Linked DNA regions of Homo sapiens. The protein of the gene in region 4 purifies or fractionates together with the protein of the main gene of each other region. This does not show direct contact. Each region holds a gene or a part of one and is shown on either strand. Other genes may lie near its edges. The genes, in order: TUBB1, ZNG1C, ZYG11B and PRSS50.

The links.
Region 1: the proteins of PRSS50 (region 4) and TUBB1 purify together in Homo sapiens (affinity purification with mass spectrometry; 3 studies listed by BioGRID and IntAct, with this or other methods). This does not show direct contact.
Region 2: the proteins of PRSS50 (region 4) and ZNG1C purify together in Homo sapiens (affinity purification with mass spectrometry; 3 studies listed by BioGRID and IntAct, with this or other methods). This does not show direct contact.
Region 3: the proteins of PRSS50 (region 4) and ZYG11B purify together in Homo sapiens (affinity purification with mass spectrometry; 3 studies listed by BioGRID and IntAct, with this or other methods). This does not show direct contact.

What each region holds. Positions count from the first base shown.
Region 1 is NC_000020.11:59,014,878-59,022,438, forward strand, and holds the start of TUBB1 (tubulin beta-1 chain), read left to right. Parts: upstream 1-4,551; 5' UTR 4,552-4,645; coding exon 4,646-4,702; intron 4,703-7,561. UniProt on the Homo sapiens protein: Tubulin is the major constituent of microtubules, a cylinder consisting of laterally associated linear protofilaments composed of alpha- and beta-tubulin heterodimers.
Region 2 is NC_000009.12:68,238,153-68,244,995, forward strand, and holds the start of ZNG1C (zinc-regulated GTPase metalloprotein activator 1C), read left to right. Parts: upstream 1-3,830; 5' UTR 3,831-3,879; coding exon 3,880-4,033; intron 4,034-6,843.
Region 3 is NC_000001.11:52,820,441-52,827,477, forward strand, and holds the end of ZYG11B (protein zyg-11 homolog B), read left to right. Parts: intron 1-998; coding exon 999-1,189; 3' UTR 1,190-6,896; downstream 6,897-7,037. UniProt on the Homo sapiens protein: Serves as substrate adapter subunit in the E3 ubiquitin ligase complex ZYG11B-CUL2-Elongin BC. Acts to target substrates bearing N-terminal degrons for proteasomal degradation with the first four residues of substrates being the key recognition elements.
Region 4 is NC_000003.12:46,711,589-46,714,878, forward strand, and holds the end of PRSS50 (probable threonine protease PRSS50 precursor), read right to left. Parts: intron 2,914-3,290; coding exon 2,630-2,913; intron 1,480-2,629; coding exon 1,313-1,479; intron 895-1,312; coding exon 658-894; 3' UTR 529-657; downstream 1-528. UniProt on the Homo sapiens protein: May be involved in proteolysis through its threonine endopeptidase activity.

The DNA.
Region 1 (7,561 bases), on a different chromosome or scaffold from region 4:
AGGAGAGGGTTTCAGGCTCAGGGCTGGGCTGGTCCTGGTTGGGAATCTCAGTGTTGTGGGCCATAGCGTCCTCACCACACTTGCTAGGAGGAAGCTCCTGCCCTCTGGGGCAATGCTTGCTGATCTCCTCACCTAAATGCAGGCACTGCTAACCTGCCTTGGTCACAGCCCTTTGTTGGGGGGGCAGAAAACAACTTTGTCACTCATCACAGTGGCCACTGTGAATCGCTTGCTGCAGCTCAGGACGGGGGCCGTCACCTTCAGCCTGGCAAAACAGACCTTGGGGTCGTGCCGGCATCTCCAGGGGCAGTGTTCGCCTATGTCCTGCACAGGGCCCGCTTCTACCAGTCCGAGGGCAAGGCAGACTGTATTCCCCACCTCACTGCTGGCACTAAGGTGGCAATCAGAGGAGAGCTGTTTCCTCTGGGGAGCAGGTACCTTCAGAAACAAGGACAAGAGAGCTGAGACGGGACGCACGGCTTTCCAGACCTGCTGCCTTTCCTGCCACTCTGTTCTGCCCAGACATTTTAAATTGAGACAGGCCCCGATGTCCACGGCCATGTCAAGTCTGCCACACAGTAGGTGCTCCGTCTGTAGGTGTGGAATGCATCTCCCCCTCCCACCCTGCGAAGCCCACTTGAAAAATACCACCGGCAGCCACACGTTAGGGGTCAGCCCTGGCAGGCCCAGTCCTCACACCGACTTGTGACGTGGGGACTTTTATTTCATTTTTCACGTGAAAAAGTTCAGGTCTAGGGCGGAGATGGGCCCCTGGGTGGCGGAGCTGCCACTCCGTCCCTCACCCTCTCACAGCCCAGCGTCCAAAGCTCAGCACTCGCCTGGCCTGAATTAACATGGCCGGCGATACAAGAATCAAAGCAAACAGGGCTTCTCTCTTTTTCCTCCTTTTTGCCAACTGCCCCATTAACAGAAAAACCTTTTAAGCGCCCACCTGGAAACCTGGCTTTTTCCCCTCCCTAAGCAAACTAAGATGGCCAAGAGGAATGTGCTGCAGTGCGGAGGGTGGGCGGAGGACCCCAGCAGCCTGGATCCTGCTCACATGGCAAACAGTGAACCCAGGCAGACCAGAAATGCCCCTTGGGCCCAGCCCCGTGGTCCCTGCAGCAAGGCGGTTTGTGGCCAACAGGGGCTCCTTTCAGGAGCTGGGCCACAGAAGGCCACGGCTGCCCACCGGTCACACCTTCCCGTAATAGCTCACTGCGGTTATTCCATCTATAGTCTGTCCCCAACATCCAGGTTTCTTGGAACAGTTTATATCTCCAGCCTAGACCACCTCTTATGGAATGGAGGAAAAAGGTGACCCCACCTGGAGAAGGACACACTCGTGAATAAATACATCACTGGCTTTAAGAACACAGCCCGCTCTGAGCATCACTGCTCAAACCTGCCCAGCTGTCAGTGTGCCCTTAACAAACATTTACTGAGGCCCTGCCATGGATCAGGCACTTTGGGGACTCAAAGATGAAACGACACAGGCAGCTCCCAGGCTGGCGGGAGATAAGGCATGTGTATAAGTAATTAGCAAACAGGACTGTGTGTGGGCACTGCAGGTTGAAGTGCTCTGGTCCCCAGGAGAGGAAGTGTCTCTGATGAGGGACCTGCCTGTGGGAAGATCATGGAGCTGTCTTTGATCTTCGGAGAAGTCTGGTAGGCAGGGGCCCCTGGGTGGGGAGGGAGGCTCGGGAGAGCTGGTGGGGACAGAGACAAGGGGAAAAGAGGCCAAGGCACGCCAGGAGAAAGGCTGGAAGTGAGGCAAGATGGGCTAATGTCTATGGAAACAGAATGGTCTATTCTTAATTTTAAAATGGTCTGTTTTAATTTCTGAAAAATATTGCTGGGGACCTATGAATAGGTCTGTTTTAATTTAAACAGATCATTAATAAAATGGTCTGTTTTAATTTCTGAAAAATACTGCTGAGGACCTGTGAATATCCTCCTCTTGAATTTGCACATTCTTCTCTTTACCTTTGGGCAGGGAGGAGGGGTGACTGGACCGGAAGCATCTGTGAGTCATGTGACATTCAGGTTTGAGCACAAAAAAGTTCCAAACTTAGAGAAATGTTACAAGGGTATTAATCTTGTGCTAACTTTGAAAAGAACCAGCAATTGTTACCACTTTGCCCCTTTGCTGAACTGCCCTCTCTCCGTTTATCACGTTATGTGGTTGTGGAACTGTTTCCCAGTAAGCTGCCAGCATCAAAACGACCTTGAAGCACAGTGCTTCATAATATGGGATCTCCTGGAAACAAGGACTTCCACTTAGAACCACCCTGCCATGATCAAAGTCAAGAAATGGAACACTGATACAATACTATTTTCCAGTGTACACAATCCTTATTTGAATTTTGACAATGATCCTCATACCATCCTCTATAGCAGCCCTCTTCCCTGGTCCTGGATCCAGCCCAGGATCATGGGGTGCACTGTCAGTACTCAAGGGCAGCCTGGGATCTACACACTAGACAGAGGTGAGAAGCAGTCCCAGTCCAGGCACTCTTAGGACACAGTGCTTTCTTCTTCCCCACCTCTGGGTTTCTCTTCTGGTTTATAGCTCAGGCCCTTTGGCTGTGTGTTTGAGCTCCTTTGGGAGTAAGCAGAAGCGATTTCCCCCAGACACTCCATCGTTAGGAACTTTCCTGATTGTGTTCCTGACCTCACATCCTGGGCCCCACCAGGCCTGTAGAAGGAACACAAGGTTTAGGAGTCAAGCCTGGGCTTGGGGCACAGGAAGCACAGGCCCCTCATGGACCAGGCTGGGCTCCAATGCTTCAACCAAGGTCACGGGTCTGGCGAGAGGCAGGGGAGGGAAGGACCTCCAGGGCTTCTCGCTCTGAGTTCAGTAGTCTTGCCTGTCCTGAGTCCCTGTCCTGAGAGATGGTGTCCTTGAGCTGCTCCAGAGCTAGGAGTGCTCTCTTCCTAAGTAAGCCAGAGTTCCAAGAGTGCAGGATCTGGCCACATCTACCTCCTTCATTCCCTTGTCTGCAGCGCCCAAGGTGAGCCCAGCCTATGACAGGTCCCCGTCCATAGCTGTTCAAAGAATGGGGGCAACCTCAGGGTGCCCGGCAGACGTTAAAGAGAGGCCTCAAGAGGTGGTTGCTCACCGGATGGTGGTTGTCCACATCCTCGGGGCTTCAGGAGTGAGGCCTTGCCCTGTACCTGCCCACCTGCACCTCGACAGCTCAACAGGCACAAGGCAGCGTCCACTGGCTCTCCCCTTCCGAGCCAGGGCTCTCACGCCTTCTCAGGGAGTCCCTTCCCCATCTTCCTTGGAAGCTTCCACCTTCTGTCCTCCAGGCGGTGGGGAACTGCCACCCTCCTGGGCAAGGATATGGAGCTGGTGTTTGGCCTGGATGCCCTTGCCTGGTTGGAGGTAATAAAGCCTAGGGCTGGCTTTCGACGATGATAGAAACTTGGTGGCAGGGGAGGTACTGAGGACCAGGAGACAGAACAGCTGCTTTCAAGCTGCTGAGTACCCAGCCTGCTGCCACTCCTGTACACCGCATGAGGGAATGCTTTTTTTTTTTTTTCTGACAGAGTCTTGTTTTGTCGCCCAGGCTGGAGTGCAGTGGCATGATCTCGGCTCACTACAACCTCCGCCTCTCAGGTTCAAGCGATTCTCCTGCCGCAGTCTCCCGAGTAGCTGAGACTACATGTGTGTGCCACCACACCTGACTAATATTTGTATTTTTAGTAAGAGATGGGGTTTCGCCATGTTGGCCAGGCTAGTCTTGAACTCCTGACTTCTGGTGATCTGCCCACCTTGGCCTCTCAAAGTGCTGGGATTACAGGAGTGAGCCACCACACCCGGCTCTAAGGGAATACAATTGGGAGTCCGTTTTGCTCTTGGAGAATTCAGGGTCTGGTAAAGGGACCCTATGGCAAACATTAAGACCCCAGACACCATGAGCTGAGATGGGACGACAGAGCAGGGGCTGGGAAGGGTGCTGGGGCACAGCCCAGCCCTGGCATGGATAGGGCAGGGGTCCAAGAGACCTGCAGGACACTGCAGAGTAACTTGCATACAGGGCGAGAGAGGGCATGTGGGGGAGGGCGGGCAGACAGTGCCTGATGCAGGCCATCCCGGGACCTGGGACCTGCGAGGCCCAGTTGTGGAGCCTCCTGCTGTGGCGGGGCACGGGGCTTCTGGGGACCAAAGTCTGGAAAAGGGGCCGGGAAGATGGACAGGGAAAGCCCTTGGAGGTGGTCTGGTTACCTGGGTGAGCTAGGAGCCACAGTCATCATACCACGGTCACTAGGGCCAGCATGGTCACCTAGAAGCCTGCAAACAGTGCCAGCCTCCAGGCCCTGTGCCCCGAGGTGGCCTTTAATCTTGCACTCACTCTCTAGGAAATGATGGGGCAGTATTCTGTGTTGAGGGAGGAAAAACACTCCCTTCCAAAAGCATGACAGGCAGAAAGCAGAGAAGGGCCAGGACTGGCTGAGGGCGGGGAGCTGGGCCTCTGGGGTGGACACACCCTTGGTCACATTGTGAGGGTAGCTTGGTTGGCCAGTCCCACCACTGCAGTGACCACAGTTGTGTTGGGCTCACACCAGTGAACCGAAGCTCTGGATTCTGAGAGTCTGAGGATTCCGTGAAGATCTCAGACTTGGGCTCAGAGCAAGGATGCGTGAAATTGTCCATATTCAGATTGGCCAGTGTGGCAACCAGATCGGAGCCAAGGTAAGTAATGTCTGGTTACTAATCCTAGCTTTACCACAGTCCATAGAGGCGGACAACCAAAAAAATACCCTAAGTTAGCAGGGAAGACAATAAGTCTAGCAGATTTAATGTACTTGCTAAATATCAGACAATGCCTTTGGGCTTTAATTCTTAAAAAAAAATTTCACATGGGAAAAGAAGGAAACAATCTTTAACTAAAGAGCTACAACACACATTAAGTGCTTAGAGTGTTAATTTAATTAATGTTAATTTTATCCATAGATACATATGTACAATACATGCCGACCATTATATTACATAATACGTTTATCATCTTTTTCTTTGCCCACTCTGTTGCCCAGGCTGGAGTAGAGTGGCAGAATCATGGCTCACTATAGCCTCAACCTCCTGGGCTCAAGCTATTCTCCTGCCTCAGCCTCCTGAGTAGCTGGGATTACAGGCATGCACCACTATGCCTGGCTAATTTTTAAATTTTTTTTTGAGAGACAGGGATCTCACTTTGTTGCTCAGGCTGGTCTTGAACTCATGGGCTCAAGTGATCCTTCTGCCTCAGGCTTCCAAAGTGGTGAGATGACAGGTGTAGGCCACCGTGCCTGGCACTTTTATCATCTTTTATTTTTTTGAGATGGAGTGTCACTCTTGTTGCCCACGCTGGAGTGCAATGGCGCAATCTTGGCTCACTGCAACCTCCACCTCCTGGGTTCAAGTGATTCTCCTGCCTCAGCCTCCCCAGTAGCTGGGATTACAGGCATGCGCCACCACGTCTGGCTAATTTTGTATTTTTAGTAGAGATGGGGTTTCACCATGTTGGTCAGGCTGGTCTCGAACTCCTGACCTCAGGTGATGTGCCCGCCTGGGCCTCCCGAAGTGCTGGGATTATAGGCGTGAGCCACTGTACCTGGCCCACTTTTATCTTAACAATGAACTTTTCATATCTAAAAACAGTAATTTGTCTCAAAACAGCTTTTTGAAGTTTTTTGAGAAACTTTCTGTACCCTGTCACTATGGTGTCTTTCCCCTCCCCTCTCATGTTTATTGTAACGCTTAAAAAAAATCAATTACTGTTTTATTAGTATGCAATTGAAAATTTAAGAAATTTAATTGAAAATAAAAGTTTTTTGTGTACAGTAACATAATTAATTAAAATACACTGTCTGGAATATAAATGAGTTTTTCTTTCCCTTGCCCCCCTGCTTAAAAATTTCCCCCAAGTACGTAACTTAATTGGCCAACCCCAAGAACACAGATGCCCGAACCCACAATCTCCAATCTTGATTTTAAGATGACCAATTGCACCGTGCAAAATTTATCGTGTTCTCTTTGCTGCTGTGAAATTACTTTTACTAATATGAGATGCATTAAAAGTGAGGTTTTGAAACACCTACATTCATCATCCATCAATGACACTTGGGTTGTTTCTGCCTTTTGGCTACTGTGAGTAATGCTGCCAGGAAACAACTAAGGCTTTTAAATGCAGGCGTTTTAAACCGGGGGCAAGGAACATTACTGCTTGAAAAGAAGTCACCATTCCTCCATGCCTCAGGGGTAAGACATTCATAACTCACACACAGAGAAGTGGGAGGCAGGAGCCCTGCTGCTCTGAAGCTGGAAGATAATACGGAAAGGGGCCCTCAAGAGAAAGTGTTAGGTTTAGATAGGGTTTTAGCTCTCACTCTGGAATCGTATGGTCTAGCGTTGAGAGTCCTGGCTGACTCATCATTTAGAGATATAAGAACTTTAAGACACATTTAATTTGGGGTATCTTAGAACTTGAATTTATTTATTCTTCCACTCCCTGAACAGTGCTGGCAGTTTACCATGAACTGCCTTGTTATTAAGACCATGGCCAGAGCAGCACTGTCATTTAGAAGATATGGCTGGGGTTTTTAACATACCCTTGGGGATTTTAATATATGTGAATACATTTTCATTGCATTTTAATATGTGCCTTTCAGGGTGATCAAAAGGAGTCTTCCCAGTAACTGTTTCCATATTAAGAGCTTGGCACATATCTATATTAATAAGTACTGTGTATGTGACTGGAAGTGCAGTATGTTTCAAATAGTTACCAGAGGACAACTATGTGTAATTGTGAGTTGTATGTATACCTGACAATCAAAAATGCACATTACTGGCCGGGCACAGTGGCTCACGCCTGTGATCCTAGCACTTTGGGAGGCCGAGGCAGGTGCATCACCTGAGGTCAGGAGTTTGAGACCAGCCTGGCTAACATGGCAAAACCCTGTCTCTACTAAAAATGCAAAAATTAGCTGGGCATGGTGGTGGACGCCTGTAATCCCAGCTACTTGAGAGGCTGAGGCAGGAGAATTGCTTGAACCCAGGAGGTGGAAGTTGCAGTGAGCCAAGATTGTGCTACGGCACTCCAGCCTAGGTGACAAGAGTGAAACTCTGTCTCAAAATAAATAAATAAACAAACAAACAAACAAACATAAAAAAATAAAAAAAAGAAAGAAAGGCCGGGTGCTGTGGCTCATGCCTGTAATTCCAGTACTTTGGAAGGCCAAGGAGGGTGGATCACAAGGTCAAGAGATAGAGACCATCCTGGCCAACATGGTGAAACCCCGTGTCTACTAAAAATATAAAAATTAGTTGGGCGTGGTGGTGCGTGCCTGTAGTCCCAGCTACTCAGGAGGCTGAGGCAGGAGAATCGCTTGAACCCAGGAGGCGGAGGTTGCAGTGAGCCGAGATCACGCCACTGCACAGATAAGACTCCATCAAAAAAAAAAAAAAAAAAGGCGCTAATTACTTAAAATCATGCACAGAGGTCCAAGTTATGGGCTGTTTGGAAAAGTTCATGAAAAGAAATCCCCAAAGTGAAATGAGTTATTACTGTGAAAT
Region 2 (6,843 bases), on a different chromosome or scaffold from region 4:
TACTGATTGTATGACTTTGAGCAAGGTATTTATCTTTTCTAAGCCTCAATTTCCTCATCTATAAAATGGGCACACAAATAGTATTTACCTTGGAGAGTTAAATGGGATAATGCATTTAATGTGCTTAACACAGTGCCTATCAGATGCTTAGGGGCTCAAAACATTATTATTGTTGTTGCTGTTGTTGTTTTACCCTAAAGTAAATGAGACAAAATAGCAAAGCTAGATGAGGAGGAATTTTTAAGATACATCAGAAACTGTAATAGATTCTAAAATATTATAATTAAGAAATTTCATACTTATTTAAAAAGGCATTTTCAATTTAACAATTTAACAATTTAACCCTCTTATAAGTTAAAAAAAAAAAAAAAGCCCGGCACAGTGGCTCACGCCTGTAATCCCAGCTCTTTAGGAGGCTGAGGTGGATGGATCAGGAGGTCAGGAGTTCAAGACCAGCCTGGCTAACGTGGTGAAACCTCGTCTCTACTAAAAATACAAAAATTAGCTGGGGGTGGTGGTGCATACCTGTAATCCCAGCTACTCAGGAAGCTGAGGCAGGAGAATCGCTTGAACCCGGAGGCAGAGGTTGCAGTGAGCCAAGATCGTGCCACTGCACTCCAGCCTCGGCAACAGAGCAAGACTCCATCTCAAAAAGAAAAAAGAAATAAAAATAAAAAGTCATGCCCAGCTATTTTGGGAGAACTGAAATTACAACTCTATCTGAGAAAATAAAATGACAGGACTCCACAGAATCCATAGATAAAAACTTAACTGAAGAGGAATATGGAACAGACTAAAGGAAAAATTTTATCAAGCTGTAATCTTTATACTTGTGCCTAAGGCCAGAACTTGAAACTGCTGAAGACAGTGTTTCTCTACAAATGCACACAGGCACCCCATTTTGATGCACAGATAGGTGTTTATTTCTTTTAAGAATAGCAGCTTTATTGAGATAAATTTCACATATGATACAATTCACCAATTTAAAGTGTACAAGTCAATGGTTTTCAGTATAATCAGAGTTGTACTACCATCACCATAATCAATTTTAGAACATTTTCATCACCGCCCAAAAACCACTGTAGTCTCTCCCCAGTCCTCCACTCCTGGGAACCATTAATGTACTTTCTGTCTCTATAGATTTGCCTATTTTGGTTATTTTATATAAATGGAATCATACAACATGTGGTCTTTTGTGAATAGCTTTTTTCACTTACCATAATGTTTTCAAGATTGATTCATTTTGTAGCAGGTATCAGTCCTTTTTCCTGTTTATTGCCAAATAATTTTCCATTGTACGGATAGATCATATTTTGTTTATCCATTTGTCACATTTTGGTTGTCTATCAGTTGATAGATATTTGTGGTGCATTTAATTTTTGGCCAATGTGTAAAACTTATTTTGCTCTCATTGAGGCTACATACTGTTACAACAATGCTATTTGGTCAACTTGACTGAGCTGGCCTCATAGGTTACAGGTTGTTCATTGTTAGAGATGAGACTTTAGACCAGACTGGACAACATAGTGAGACCCTGTCTCTACCAAAAAGAAAAAGAAAAATTAGCCAGATGTAATGGCATATGACTGGAGTCCCAGCTACTTGGGAGGCTGAGATGGGAGGATCACTTGAGCCCAGGAGTTTAGGACTGCAGTGAGCTGTGATCGTGCCAATGCAATCCATGCTGGGCGACAGAGTGAGACCCTGTCTCAAAAAACAGAAAGAGGGATTTTAGTATAACATTCAGCCAGTGCCATATTGGGAACCCACAAGAATGTACTTTTAAAAATATGTCAAAGAAGATGGTGAGGGCTGTAATAGCTGCTATTCAGGCAGTAATGCAGTGCTGAAGGGACATCAAGCAAATAGTGTGATGCCTGTGGGTGCAATGTTACTCCTTCCCTTAGGTTGCCAAAAAAATCAATACTTCATAGCATTCCTGAAACGAAAAAGCTTATGAACCATTGTGTTTAGGGCGTAAGCTATCTATTTTGGGCTACCCATCACAGCTTCTCTCCTTTGGCAGAATACAGTGAACTGAACCACCACACCTAAGGTATTTGCCTTATTTCTTCCTCAGCTGGTTCATGGTTACATTGTCAAAGCTGGCAAAGCATTCAAGACCTGATTTCTCAGACCGAGTGTATGTGTGAATATAATATACTCATTTGCACAAATATAAACCCTCTGTCTTAACTGTGTTCTGCAAAAGGCGTGATAAATACTTTCAAGTTATATGTACTTATCAGTAGAACTAATGGAATACACACAGTATATTTTATGGGGAATTTCAGAGAAGGAAGGAAAAGTCAACCTTTTATTTGGCATCAGGATAGTAGTAAAACATTCTACTTGTGCATCAGATAGATTTTTATGACCTAACCTGGACAAGTAACTTAACTCTTGGTGCCTCATGTTTGAAAGAGGGATAACACTCTACAGGGTCATTCTAAGAATTACATATTGCCAAAACACATGAAAAGATTCTCAACCTTGTTAGTAATCAAGGAAATGCAAATGAAGATCACAATGAAGTCTTCTTTTGTACTCAATTGATTGGTGAAAAATGCATGCCTGATAATATTGACATACAGACCAATGAGATCTCTTATAATTTGCTGGGAAAATGTATCAATTTGTACAAACATTTTGAAAAATAATTGTGCATTTTCTTGTGAAGTAAAACATTTGAATAATCTAGGACCCAGCAATTCAACTCTTAGACACTCAAGAGGAAGTTGCACACACATATGTCAGGAAAAATGTTCATAGCAGCCCTGTTCATAAGAGCAAAACCTGGAACAATTGAGAGGAAATGAATAAATTGCCGTGTAGCCACACAATAGAATACAAGACAGCAGTGATGCTGAAAAATATAGCAAGCCTCAGGAGTTTATATATTATATGGATAATTTTATGAAGCTCAAAAACACCCAAAATTAAACAACATATTCTCTAAGTACATACGTGGGATATGTGATAAAACTAAAAAGAAAACAGGGAAGGATCAGCAATCCAGAACCAATTCATGACTGTTGTTACTATCTTATGGGGCAGGCTGTGGATTGGAAGCGGGGGCGGTGCACATAGGTACGTGTAGCTTACTGGTAATGCTTTTATGTTAGGAATGAGGTCAAAGGAGTTCACTATAAATTTATATTAGAAAGAAGGGCTATCTATGGATTAGTGATGAGAGTGTCATGCACCAGCAAATATGATTAATGAACTTAGGTTACCTGAGGTCCAAATAAATAATGAGAAAAAAGTAAATAAAAGTGATGCATGAATACTAAAAATTTGGAATTACATATATAATATGTAATAATAAAAAAAGAAAAAATTGTCACTGGTTATCCTTCAGGTATAAAAATTACAATTAAAATTGTAATGTTATAACCTTCCATTCTTTCCCCTATGAATTAAAACTTTTTTTTTTAACGAGACTAAAAAATCAAGTTGATAAAATCTATGCCCTGTGGGAACTGGTTAGGTCAGGCTACCCACTCCAGATTTCCAGCAGGCTGGCCTCAGCTCTACCTACAGCCAGTAGCTTATTAAGGCTCTAGGCGCCAGTGACACCTTCAGACAGGTGGTTAGTGCGCCCTAAGGACTCTCCGCAGCGTCGCTCAGGTTCACAGAACACGCCCAGGGGCGTGTCCAGCTGTCGTCGGGGAGAGCCCACCTCCCCGGGGGGTGTGGCTAAGGGACGAGGCAGTTCTCGTCCAGAGCCCAGGTAATCCGGGCGGGATCAGCTAGCGTCGCGATGTGATGACGTCAGGCCCCGGCCAGGCCGGGAGTGGCGTGCTGGGCGTGCGCGGCTGCGGTACGGCGTGTTGGTCCCAGCGGTTCAGCTGAGGTAGGGACGTGCTGTAGGCCGGAATGTTACCGGCTGTTGGATCTGTGGATGAGGAAGAGGATCCTGCGGAGGAGGATTGTCCTGAATTGGTTCCCATTGAGACGACGCAAAGCGAGGAGGAGGAAAAGTCTGGCCTCGGCGCCAAGATCCCAGTCACAATTATCACCGGGTATTTAGGTAACTAACCATCCCAGTCACAAAATGCCGTGAACTCTGGTGTCATGGGATTTTGCGGGCTGCCGGTGCCTCTTCTCCTGAGGCATTGGGGCCTCATGATCAAGAGCAAATGTCTTTGAGGTAGGGGCTGGGTCACTTGCTTCTCGTATGGGTTACCTCTCATCTTGGGAGTTAATGATGCCCGGTCCCCTCTGCGTTAGATTCCCATTTCTCAAGTGAGATGGAAAGTTAGCCTTTGAAACAAGGCTTTGAAGCTAAGACACGCCCCCCTAATTGTCTCTGTGACCTCTTACCAAGTTATCTTACCTTCCTGACGCTCATCTACCTCACCTGAAAATGGAAAAATACCTGTCACCTGTGAAATAGGGCCGGAACAACCTACCTATTGCCATTAAAGGATGTCCCGTCTGTAAAATGCCCGACACGTGGGGCTTTCGTCAGCAGATTCCCCTTCCCCAGGAGCCAAAGTCCTCCAGCCAGTTGGCAGGAAGTGCTCCTATCTTAAACACTTTTCTTTTGAGGTCTGTTTGTAAACCACTGCGTAGGAAGTAAGAATAAAATCTCTGTCCTCCAAGACTATTTCTCAAACTAAGAACGTTTAGAGTGTACAGGGATACTCGAAACCACAAGTTTGTGAACTTGGTAGTTTCGTGAAGGGCGGTTTATGCACTTACACTAGAAGTTTCTTACTGGAAAAGTTTGAGAAATATATTTTTAAACCTTACAGTTAAATAGAAGGGCTAGAACAAATATATGACTGTATTAGAAGTTTGGAAAAAGTTAAGAAATGTAAATAAAATAATACTGTTTCCGGGAAATAATATTCCTAGTTGTTGCTAGAGACAGGTACAGACTTGGGCCACTTCGTGACCTTTTATGTAAAAATAAGAAATAACTGCTTTTGTTTTTTTAAAAACTTTGTAGACTGTAAGTTTATTCCCGTTTTTTGCTCGGAAGTAATTTTATAAAGGAATTTATTTTTGGCGTTTCCCCACAGTTATTCAGAGGCTGCTCTACTGAGAAGATGAACAAATTTCTTGTCCAAAACAATGTATTTCAAACGTGCCCCTCGGGCCTTTCCCGTGTTGCTCACTGGTAGGTCAGTAGATCATTGGAGAAAATGATCTGAAGCTCAGGAGTGAGAATTAATACCAGCAACCTTGTTGCTGAATCTAGGGATAGTTTCACTCCTATCCCTGACCATTTTCCCTTTTTGAAACACTGTTCCTTTGGCTTCTATTACATTTTTCTTCTGATTTTTCCACCTGCTTCTCTGGCTTCTTTTTAAGGCTCCCTCCTCCTTCCCCCTTTGTCCATCTTTAGCTACACACCTGTGTAATTTCTATTTTGATGTCCTACAACTTAAAACTTAACATGTCTGAAACTTCGTCTGTTACCATCCCCCCAAATCCTGCTTCTGTGATCCCAACCATTTGGAATACTCTAAAAGCCTCCTGACTAATCTGGAGTCTTGCTGCCCTTTAATTTATTCGTTGCATGTTAGCCTTAATGATCTTTATAAATGTCAATCCGACTGCGTCACACCTTTCAGTGGCGTCCCTATGGGTTAAAATTCAAATTCCTTAACATGAATTACAAGGACCTGTAGGATCTGGATCTTGCCAACCTTTCCAGCCTGCCAAATTGGCCCCGCACAATAAACTAAGGTTACTTCAAAGGTGCCAAGTGTTTTAGCCCCTTGGAATAGGTACTTTTTTACTGTGACTCCTCTGGCTAGATGTCCCTCTTAGGTTCTCCATAGCATTTTGTGCATCTCCTATTGAATATGTCACCCTGTGACATAATTGCCTCCTTATTCACTGAATTCCCCTCCATTCCCCCCTTCCCTTAATATTTCTAAGCTCTATGAAGGCAGAGACTATCTTGTTCACTTTTTCACCAAGGCCCAGCATAAATCTGTAACGTATTAGAAACCTTTGAATGAATGAACTATGTCTTAAAGTGTTTTTTTTTTTCATAATATGGTTAAAAAGCCCTAGTAAATCTTCTCTTAGAAGATTTCTTACATTCACCCTTTCCTTTCAGTTTTCACATCACTGCCCTGTGAAACACTCATGTTCAGGGCCTCTGTCTCAGGCTTGGACTGGTTTTAAGATCTTCCTCATTGCCCTAAGTCTCTCTCTTCCATACTATACTTCATATTTTTGTGATGTTGAGCTTCCTAAAGTACTCTAAATATAAGCCTTCATCTCTTAAAAAGCTTTGAAAGGAATATGACCTAAAAGATATTAATACCCTAATACTCCGTAAAATCTTCCTAGTTGTAGGAAGATCTAGTTATATACTAGAAAACTTTATTTCAGAAGACATGTATAGCCTACATGTAAAAGTTTTTAGCAGCACTGTAATAGTAAAACACTGGAAACAAACCAAATGTCCAACAAAAAAAAAGATAAAGAAATGATATAGTCATACAATTGAACTACAATACTATGCAGTTAGGATTTTCTTTTTTTCCTCTATGAATTTTAGTGTGTACGGTTCACAAGACTTTTTTTTCTACTGGAGATTGACATATTGGGTTTCATATGCCACCTGCTGGATAAAGTTGGTATAGCTTTATGAATTTATCTTAACTGAACATTCTGTTCATTGTTGACACTACCTGGCTCTATTCCCCATTTCATAAAAACTTTTATAGATTGTTTAAAGCATACTATAAGTAGCCATATAGTCAGCCTGAAGTTGCGTCTCGTTAATGTTGAAATAAAAGGTCACTATAAATAAAAGATTGTGTGTCAATTTTAGGGAAGGTTAGGCTAGGTTGAAGAAACTGTTTCAACTTGTAG
Region 3 (7,037 bases), on a different chromosome or scaffold from region 4:
GTTTGAGACTGGACTGGCCAGCGTGGTAAAACCCCACCTCTACCAAAAATACAAAAATTTAGCCAGGTGTGGTGGCTGGTGCCTATAGTCCCAGCTACCCAGGAGACTGAGGAAGGAGAATTGCTTGAACCCGGGAGGCAGAGGTTGCAGTGAGCCAAAATTGTGCCATTGGACTCCAGCCTGGGCAACACAGCAAGCTGCAGTGAGCCATGATCACACCACTGGGCATGAGCCATGATCACCCCAGCCTGGGCAACAGAATGAGACTGTCTTTAAAAAAAAAAAAAAAAAAAAAAAGGCTAATAAAATATTTCAAAAATTTAAAAATTGTATGTGCAGTATGAGTGCCATTAAGTTTTTAAAAAGCATAGTAAATGCAGCCTGGCATTATGGCTCATGCCTGTAATTCTAGTACTTTGGGAGGCTGAGGCGGGAGGATTGCTTGAGGGCAGGAGTTTGAGACCAGCCTAGGCAACATGGTAAAACCCCATCTCTACTAAAAATAAAAAAATTAGCCAGGGGTGGTGGCATGTGCCTGTATTTCCAGGCTGAGGCACAAGAATCGCTTGAACCCAGGAGGCGGAGGCTGCAGTGAGTCGAGATTGCGCCACTGTACTCTGGCCTGGGCAACAGGGCAAGACTCTGTCTAAAAAAAAAAAAAAAGCATAGGAAATGCATAAAAATATAACAACACTTACCTGTGATTTTGGGTCAAAGATAAGGTAGTTATGATTGTTTTTATTTTTTTAATACAGGTTGTACATGTCTTGAGGTTAGAAAAATCAAGCTAGCTATTTATTGATTGAATGTGTAGGCCTTGCACTGTAGACGTAACATCAGTATAGAGGTTATTTATCAAGCTGTAGCATGTTAGTGATCAATAACAAAACAGCTAAAAAAAAATGGCTCCTAGAAGTCATTTTTTTGTGGAATAATTTTCAAGTGTTTTAAGAAAAGCTATTTCTCCTGTTTTGTGTGTGTTTTTTTTTCTTTTTCAGCTTCAAGGTATTGCAGCATGCTGATTGAAGAAGGAGGATTGCAGCATTTATACAACATCAAAGATCATGAACATACTGATCCCCATGTCCAACAGATTGCTGTGGCCATTCTGGATAGCTTAGAAAAACACATTGTGCGCCATGGGAGGCCACCTCCCTGTAAAAAACAGCCCCAAGCCAGACTAAATTGATAGCCATAAGTATTGGATAGTTGAATCACAGGAATCCTTTTTGTGATTGGTCCATTTGGAATATCTTACCCTCCCTGATGTTTTGGGGGTTTCTATGACAAGAGTCATAAAATCAGTTTGGGATTGATAATGTGTAGTACTGCCCATGTGAACAGTCTCTAATTTGTCTTGTGATTTTAAACTTATGAGTCAAGAAGGGTCTCTTCCTTTATCATTGCCTTTTAGGAAATTTTCCACATCTTTCAGTGTTTGAACTTACTTGTGCTTGAGATTCTACAGTTTTATGGTAAAGTTTGCACGAACCCTTAGGCCAGACTTTTCTGATCTCAGAGTCCCTTCCAATCAATTTGCAGCTTCACATAAGCTGTTGACCTGATTTCTGACACTGCTTCAGTTGTAAATTTTATACTGCTTCTGTATAAAATGCCTTTCTTCTCTATCTGTGTATATTTTATAAGATGTCCTTCTTAGTGTGAAAGAAGGGAAATGTGGATCATCTTGTGGAAGCTAATCACTGGCAGGAGCCTGGATGGCTGGCGGAAAGATATATGAGAAAGAAAAATTATGAAGGTAGAACAGAGTGTAGGAACTGGGAATTGGTTTCATGGTATAGGTTTTAAAATGAGACAGGCTACCCTTCGGGAGTCCACCTCTCTTGAGGCGGTGAGCAGAAGCTTGTCCTCCATATTTATACCTAGAAGTGTGGACTGCTGGTTCCTGCACAGACTGCCGGTTATTCACTAGGAATATTTCCCCAAGCACCACAGTATAAAATACTACAGCACTCTGTGTTAAAGACTAACTGTCTACATCTCCATATGTTGTAGTGTTGTGAAAATGTGATTTTAAAAAATTATCGCCAGTTAAAACTGGCTATTCTTTTCCTCTATTTCAAAGTCATTTTTGTTCAGTGGAATAGAGACAGCAACATGGTGTTAACCTCTCAATTAAAATACAATTGACACCAGTAAATTTTGCCATAAAAAGTTAAAATCTCTTGTTCAAAATATGTGTATCTTCTTAATGTGTTCATGTTAGAGAAAGTGTCCCCATCTCACTGCCAAAAATGAAAGAAAATAATTAAACTCTTTAAATGATTAAATGTAATGATTCTACTCGCAGTGCATAACAGCACATATTTTTGACAGATTATTTTTTAGGCAATTACCTTTCCTTAAGGTATCTGATACAGTATAGTAAAGAATCACTTATATCAGTAATAGCACTTGAGAGATAGCAAGTCACCAAGAAACTTAATTTTCATTTAAAATTTTATTTTGTGAATAAGGTCAATCTACAATCCCAGATAACTACATTTTTTTTCATAGATGGCCAGTGTTTTCAACAGAGATTTAAAATGGAATATTAAAATTATAGTGATTATTCAGAAGCATTTTAATTTAGAAAGGAGCTGGTTTGTTAGTTCACTGATGACATTTTTTGACAAACATTTTATACCATTATCACAATAATCAGACTTGAATTTTTTTTGGAGTTCCTTCATGTGAATGAAAACTGAGTTAAAAGAAAGTAGGCATTTAGGTCTGGATGCAGTGGCTCATGCTTGTAATCCCAGCACTTTGGGAAGCTGAAGCAGGAGGATTGCTTGAGCCCAGAAGTTCAAGACTAGCCTGGGCAACATAGTGAGACTCGGTCTCTACCAAAAAAAAAAATTTTTTTTTTTTAAATTAGCTGGGTGTGGTGGCACCTGGGAAACAGAGCGAGACGCTGACTCAAATAAATATCTAAATAGATATTTAGAATCACTGAAAACCATATTAAATGCTGGGTTAATGCTGACTTAATTGGCTTAAGGAATTTTTATAGGCGTAAGATAAATTTTCACAGACTAAGTTTATTTCAGACAAAATAGAGAATTCTTTTAAAAGTTTTTTTTTTTTTTTTCCTTTTTCGAATGTTAATGTCTAAGACAAAGTTCAGAAAACGAGATGGCCTGTGGTAGTTTGGAAATTGCTAGATATGTTGACCGTTTCCAGGTCTTTTATCTAGTGTAGTTAAGGGAAAGCCTATTTAAGAAGTTTGGCTTCAAGTTTCTGTTTTATAAGACAAAAGTGCATATTTCTTTACAGGCTAATGCTAGGTTTTTGTCTTTACAAATTATTTTCAGAAATGGCTAAAAGTGTACAGAAAACAGTAAATCCCTTCTTTACTCAGAATAACTTCTTAATAGTTGAAGCATCCAAAATATGTAAAAGCAAGGGTGGGCGTAGTGGCTCTTGCCTGTAATCCCAGCATTCTGGGAGGCCGAGGCGGGCAGATCACTTGAGATCAGGAGTTCGAGACCACCCTGGCCAACGTGGTGAAACCCCGTCTCTACTAAAAATACAAAAACTAGCTGGGCATGGTGGCTTTTTTGCACGCCTATAGTCCCAGCTACTCGGGAGGCTGAGGCACGAGAATCACTTGAACCCAGGAAGTGGAGGTTGCAGTGAGCTAAGATCGTGCCACTGCACTCCAGCCTGGACAACGGAGTGAGACTCTGGGGAAAAAAAAAATTAAACTTCCTACTTTTTTTCTTTTTGTAGAGACAGAGTTTCACTCTGTCGCCCAAGCTGGAGTGCAGTGGCACAATCATACCTCACTGCAGCCTCTTGGGCTTATGTGATCTTACCCCCTCAGCCTCTGGAGTAGCTGGAACTACAGGCTAAATTTCCTACTTTGTAAACATCAGTAGTGGCCAGATACTTCTGAGTCTTAAAAGCATAATAGGCCGGGCGCGGTGGCTCACGCCTGTAATCCCAGCACTTTGGGAGGCCGAGGTGGGTGGATCACAAGGTCAGGAGTTCAAGACCAGCCTGGCCCAAATGGTGAAACCCTGTCTCTACTAAATATACAAAAATTAGCTGGGTGTGGTGGCGGGCACCTGTAATCCCAGCTACTCAGGAGGCTGAGGCAGGAGAATCGCTTGAACCTGGGAGGTGGAGGTTGTGGTGAGCCAATATCATGCCACTGCACTCCAGCCTGGGTGACAGAGTAAGACTCCGTCTCAAAAAAAAAAAAAGCATAATAATTTATTACATCCCAAATATATAAAAATTTGAGTGCCTTTGCAGTTGGGATGGTTCCTAAAATTGCGTATAGAATTAAGGCACAGAATTGTGTGTAAGGTCCTGAATCTGGCTAAAATACAGTGGATGTATGTATTGGAATTATGAGGCATAAGTAGCCAGTATCTATAGTTAGAATCTACAAGGCCTCCTTTTTGCACCTGTAGACTAGAATATAACTGTTATTGGTGCCTTTGAGTGTTATCTCTCAGTGGCTAGAGGTGCTGTTTCAAGCACAATTTAGACTAGGGTTGAACCACTCATTGTTCAAATCATTGGTGGGCTCCAATGTAAAATATCACTACATCAGTCCACAAGCAACATTAAGGAAATCTAAAGGAAATGGAATTTGACTTTTTAGAGTATAATGATGTTCTAGGGCATAATGAGGAAAATTTTTAAAAAATAGATTATAATGATACATATTGGTATCATTAAGACAACAGATTTGAGCAAATACAATTAAGGTGTCTTATTTTTTGCATCAAGTAATTATTGCTGTGGTCTTTCTACTCCACAAAATAATTTTTTCTTTTTGCAGTTGAAAATTAACTGCATTATTAACTAATTAATAAAATAAATCAAGTGGTATAAGGGATTAGTTTACCCTCAAGCCGATGACTCCATGGCTACTGATATTAGTTAGTTTAGGATTTTTAAAAAGCATATCAGACCCCCAGTTTCAGGAATTGAGTATAAATATTGCTTCTTGTCACCCTGGGACAGTAATGCCTTATAGTGGCACTAGTCACCTTAAGTAGATTACACATGGTTGAGGTGAATAAAGCTGCATGGGAATTTGCTTTCGTGATATATTTCATTTGCAAACTTCTACATAATCAAGTTTTATGTTTAAAACCATCGGTTCTATATATCTAGCTTTAGGAAGTTGCCCTTACAGGTGGGACCTTTTGTGTTAATCTGTTTTCTCCCCAGTCATCTTATTTGGCTATGTTAAAAAAAAAAAAAAAAAAAAAGCGAGAGAGAGAGATGGTGTCTCACTGTGTTGCCCAGGCTGGTCTCGAACTCCTGGCCTCAAGTGACTTTCCCACCTCAGCTTCCCAAAGTGCTGGAATCACAGGCATGAGCCACAGTGCCTGGTCTTAGCTGTGTTTTTAATTATGCCATGCATCAACATAACACCGGGCCATCTTCCTATCCCTTCCTATCCCATATGTTTAATGAAAACATATTTTATGTGCTAAATTAGGTTAATTTACCAGAGATTTAGCTTAGTGTTTTTAAACTATAGAACAATACCCCTATAGAACAATGTACAGCTGCACCCAAGGTTAAAAAGAGGTAGCAGGGAAAACAAACTTAAACTCTTTGTATATGGTGAAACCCATCCCTCTCCTGCCCTCTAATGGTATGTTTACATTATTTCGTTATTATACAATGTAGTGGTATAAACAGTATTATTAAACTGAAGGCATAAGTTAAAGGAAGTATGTTACTTTGAGCTGATGTAGGCTCTTCCACTTTTATCTGTATTTTACTTATTTGGGGACTTTGTATTGCTAGGGCTTCAGAATACTAACTTTGACACAGCTCCCAGAGAGGTTTGCAAACTTTTGGTTTCCCTCTCAAATCCATGGTAGTAGTTTCAAATGAGTTTGTGGATAATGGATGTTTAGTCCTTATCATTTGCTGTGTTTTGACAGTTTTTAATTTGCAGTATTCACTCACGAACTGTTTTATTTTAGGAATAATGCAAAACCAACCTTCGTCCGGTGATGAGAATAGCCGTATGATAAGAGAATTTGCTCATCGTGCTTTAAATGATTAACTGTTTTACCTTATTTAGTATTTCATAGACTTTGCATGATATGGTACACTCCTAATTATGCATTCTTTGGTTTCCAAATCTTAATCTAAGATACTTTGTTAACTGACTGGTAGCCTAAGAAAGAGACTTTTCTTCCTGTTTTTCTCTCTCCCCATTTTTTGGGGTAAGTTTTGCAAAGATCAGTGCTGCTTCTCATGACTCTAAAGTAAAGCTCTTTTGGATAGCACAGCCTAACTTTACAGCTAGACAGAATGGCCATTAAGAATATTTCCAAAATCCAAGTTTATCAAAATTATTTTGTGGGAAATCATCAATCTATTTTATTAATGTTATGTGTTTAATTTTGGACTTATTTTGGGAAAAACTGTTCAAATTGGGTCCTTTTAAGCTTATTTTAAGCAGCCTAGAAGGAAGAAGCTACTTAGCTAATGAAAGCTGAGACACTTTATTAAAAGCAGGATCTTAAGAGCATTGTTTTTCCTTAAAAACTTTATACTCTCAGATAATCTGCAACAACAAAAATTAAGAAATCCCTGACTTTTGTAGAATTCCCACTGTCAAATTCTCACTGACTTATGAGTGTGAGAGAAGTTATCTTTTGTTTGAATTCTGATAGAACAGTTTAACTCCTTTCTAAGGATATAAAAAATTCATTGGAAAGTGTGTATATTTCAAAGACTCTCAATTATCTGGACTGAAGGCACTGTTCTCACTATGGCCAGATGAATGGGAGTATTCTGTACATGAATCATGCTGTATTTTAAATCAGGACATCACTTAAGTATTAATGTTGTGTGTACAGATTTTTGTTTTGGGATTTTTTTTGCCTAAATAAATGTTATAAATTTTATGTAAAGTGTGTCTTGTCTACTTTTATTCTAGACATTTGGCTTTAAAAGTTAATATTAATGCAAACTTCAAATTCCTTAGTGATCCACTTGTAATGATTGCTTTCTGAAAAAGGCTACTTTTACTGGAGAAGTTTTTATTT
Region 4 (3,290 bases):
CCCCTGACATGGGGCCACCACTAGCCTTTTATGGGCAGGCCTGGCTGCTGGTGGTTGGAATAACATCTGACTCCAGTGGGTGTCTGTCACTGTCTCCAGACAGGAGACAGAGACAGAGGGTCAAAGTTCACTATGGCTCTTTGGGGCAATGAAATGCTGTGTTCTAGCCTCTTGCCAGAAATCAGCCAAAGTCAAGGAAAGCCCGACTCCCACAGTTATCACAGAAAGAGCACCCACTTTCCAGCCCAGACAGCTGCACCCCAGCTGGGTCCTGGCAGCCCCAGCTTCAGCCTGGGCGGTATGTTCCAGGCCCCTCGATCATCTGACCCTAATATCACCCCTTCACACCCCCTCCACCTTCTGCGGGAGCCACCCCGAACCTTTGAATGGGGGAGATCCTGGAGGCTCTGCAATTTTCAGTGTAAACTGCCTGGAGTTCCCCACTTCACCCTCATCTGGTTCACCTGTGGACTCCCAACAGAGCAGGCCCAGGAAACGTGGGGCCTCTGAGGCCGGGGAAGAAGGAGGCATGGAAAACAGTAATGTTTAATTGAGCACCTCATCTCCACCCTGACTCTCAGGGCTGTGACAGCTGCACCCACAGCAACCTGGGCACGGAGGCAAGGGGGGCCCACAAGTGAGGGAGGGCACACAGAGTCAGAGGGCAGCAAGGAGGCTGAGGGGCAGTGGGAGTGCCAGGAGCAGGGTCCTGGATGGGGCTGGCAGGGCCAGGGCCTGCCCGTTGAGGCAGTCCCAGATCCAGTGTTGGTAGGAGGAGACCTGTAGGTAGATGGGTGGGGCCTCGCTCTTCTGGCAGCCTGCACCCCAGCTCACCAATCCCACCAGGTACCACGTGCCCTCCATGGAGCAGACCAAGGGCTCTCCAGTTAGCTCCTGTGGGAAGGGTTGGGGGAGTAAGGGTCAGGGAGGCCAGGCAAGGCCAGAGACGACCCAGCTCCAGGACAGGCGGGATGTCCTCACACCACACCTCCACAGTCCCCCAGTGCCAACATAGGTGAGAAGTGCTCCAGACCCAGGAGCTCTTCCTCAAAGGGTTTCATCCCCCACCTCTTAACACCCACCCTCCATCTCCCCACGGACCCCCCACTCCTCTCACCTCCAACAGCCATCCCCATTCCCAGCCCCCATCTGTTTCCTCCCAGTCTCCCCCGACATCCTCCATCCCCATATCCCAGAGTCCTGCCCACCCCCTTCCCTTCCCCTACCCAACCTCCACCGTTCCGCTCTCCCTCCCCAGATGCCTCTCCCCCAGGTGCCCCTGAAGGGGAGTGAGCGAGGAGAGGCCGCTCACATAGCAGAACTTCTCCCTGTGGGTGTCCTCCGCACACATCATCTGGGACTTGATGATCTGAACCAGAGTGGGGATTTTGGTGAAGTTGTGGTAGAAATTGTCACACTCTTTGTTGTTCAGGATGATGACTTCCTTCTCCTGAATGGTCCGGAACTGAGGCCACATGCCTGTGGGACAGGGCCCCATTTAGGCGCAGCCACTCACCGCTGCCCACTACCGCCAGCCTCACTCGTCCTCTCTCCACTGTTCCCCACGTCCCACCTTTTCTGCTTTAGCCACACACCTCTGCCCTCGTTCTAGCCCATACCCATCTAGGGCCCTCAACACAGAGCCCCCGGAGCAGAGTACCCCCAACCCAGCCTTGCCGGGCCTGCTCTCGCTTCCTGCAGTGCCCAGGCCACTGGGGCCCTTGACACCACCTCCACCACACTCGGCCTCTTGGCTTTTGCCACTCCTTCCCTCCTGAGGGCCTGCCAAGCCTTCCTTCTCTTCAAGCATCCCTTCTCCCACAGGCCTCTTCCCTGCTGAGCCTTCCCAGACCCCTCCATGGAGGCCAGGCACTGCTTCTTCCTTCTGCCTCCCTGAGTAGTGTGTCCCTGTCCCTGGCCTAAGCTCCTGGGAGACAGGAGACAGGCCACAGCAGGGATGACAAAGTCACTCCCAGGTCCTCCCACATGGGCTGAAGCCCCCTTGAGCTGTTTTGAGAGTAAGTTGGTTCCTTGAGGCCACAGGGAAGGGCATCTCTCTTATGGGCTGGGGACCCCCTGAAGGAAGTAGACAGTTCTAGGGTCCCCTGGATGTTCCTGAGAGAACACACCTGCTCTCTGGGCCTTGCTCCTGAATTGGGACGACCAGGAGTTGAGGCCCACTGAGGGGAGGGGAAACCATGAGCTCCAGCTGCAGACGGCCCCTAGCCAGCCATGTGGGCCTTCTGGGCAGCATTTTACAACACAGAAGACTGCTCCCCCGACCTCAGGTGCTCTGCTGCAAGCTGCCGATGCCTGGGCAGTGGGTGTGGACTGTGAGGTATTACTCTGTGCCTCTCTGCCTTCAAGGAAGTTCTGTTTACATGCCCTGGCCTGACTCAGGATTCAAAGGCAATCAGGGTCCCCTGAGGCTGGAGCAGCAGTGAGGTGTTCCCCACGAGATCCTCAAGGGGAAGGAGACCTCAGAGATGAGAGCCTGGCAGGAAGGTCCCGGGAGCGGCAGGCTCCCTGGGGAAGGTGCCTCAGAAACATCCATCTGTGGTGGCACCCTGGCCTGCACCCACGTCCTTTCTCACAGCACCCGCCCTGGTCTGCAGAGGCTTTGACTCACCGTCAGCCTTGGAAAGTCCCCAGCCCGTCACAGTGCAGCGGGAATGGTCCTTCAACACATAGTCCGTGCCAGGCAGGCAGATGGGCCGCACGTAATTGCTGTACTTGAGTTCCTGCTTGAGCTTGAGGAGGCCGATGTCGTTGGCCTGGCCCACCCAGGACCAGAACCGCTGGGCCCGGTACCTGCTATGCATGATGACCTGGAGCACCGGGACATCGGAGGCGGTCTGCGTCATCTGGTCAATCCACGGACTCCCCACCCTCACTGAGTAGATAACATCACGCCTAGGGGGGCCGTGAGGGGAGGCCATGATCAGCTCCAGGCCCCCTGCCCCAGCCTCCAGCCTGGGCCTTCCCCCACTCTGCTGCCCTCCCAGAAGATCCAGGAGGGGCCACCCACCCGCTTCAAGCCCCCTGAGCCTACTCCTCACCACAGACATGAACAGGGCCCTGCACACTCACTGTGTGGTCCAGTCCTCAAGACCCTTCATTTTATGGAGGGGGAAACTGAGGCTCAGAGAAGCCCAATGAACCACTCAGGGCTGCATAGCTAGGAGGCAGTGGAAGGGATGCGGACCCAGTTTTCTCTGGTTCCAAACTCTACTCTCAGTCCATAGCATGGACTCTTTCACCCCATGCTGTGCCCTGGAGGAGGCAATTCT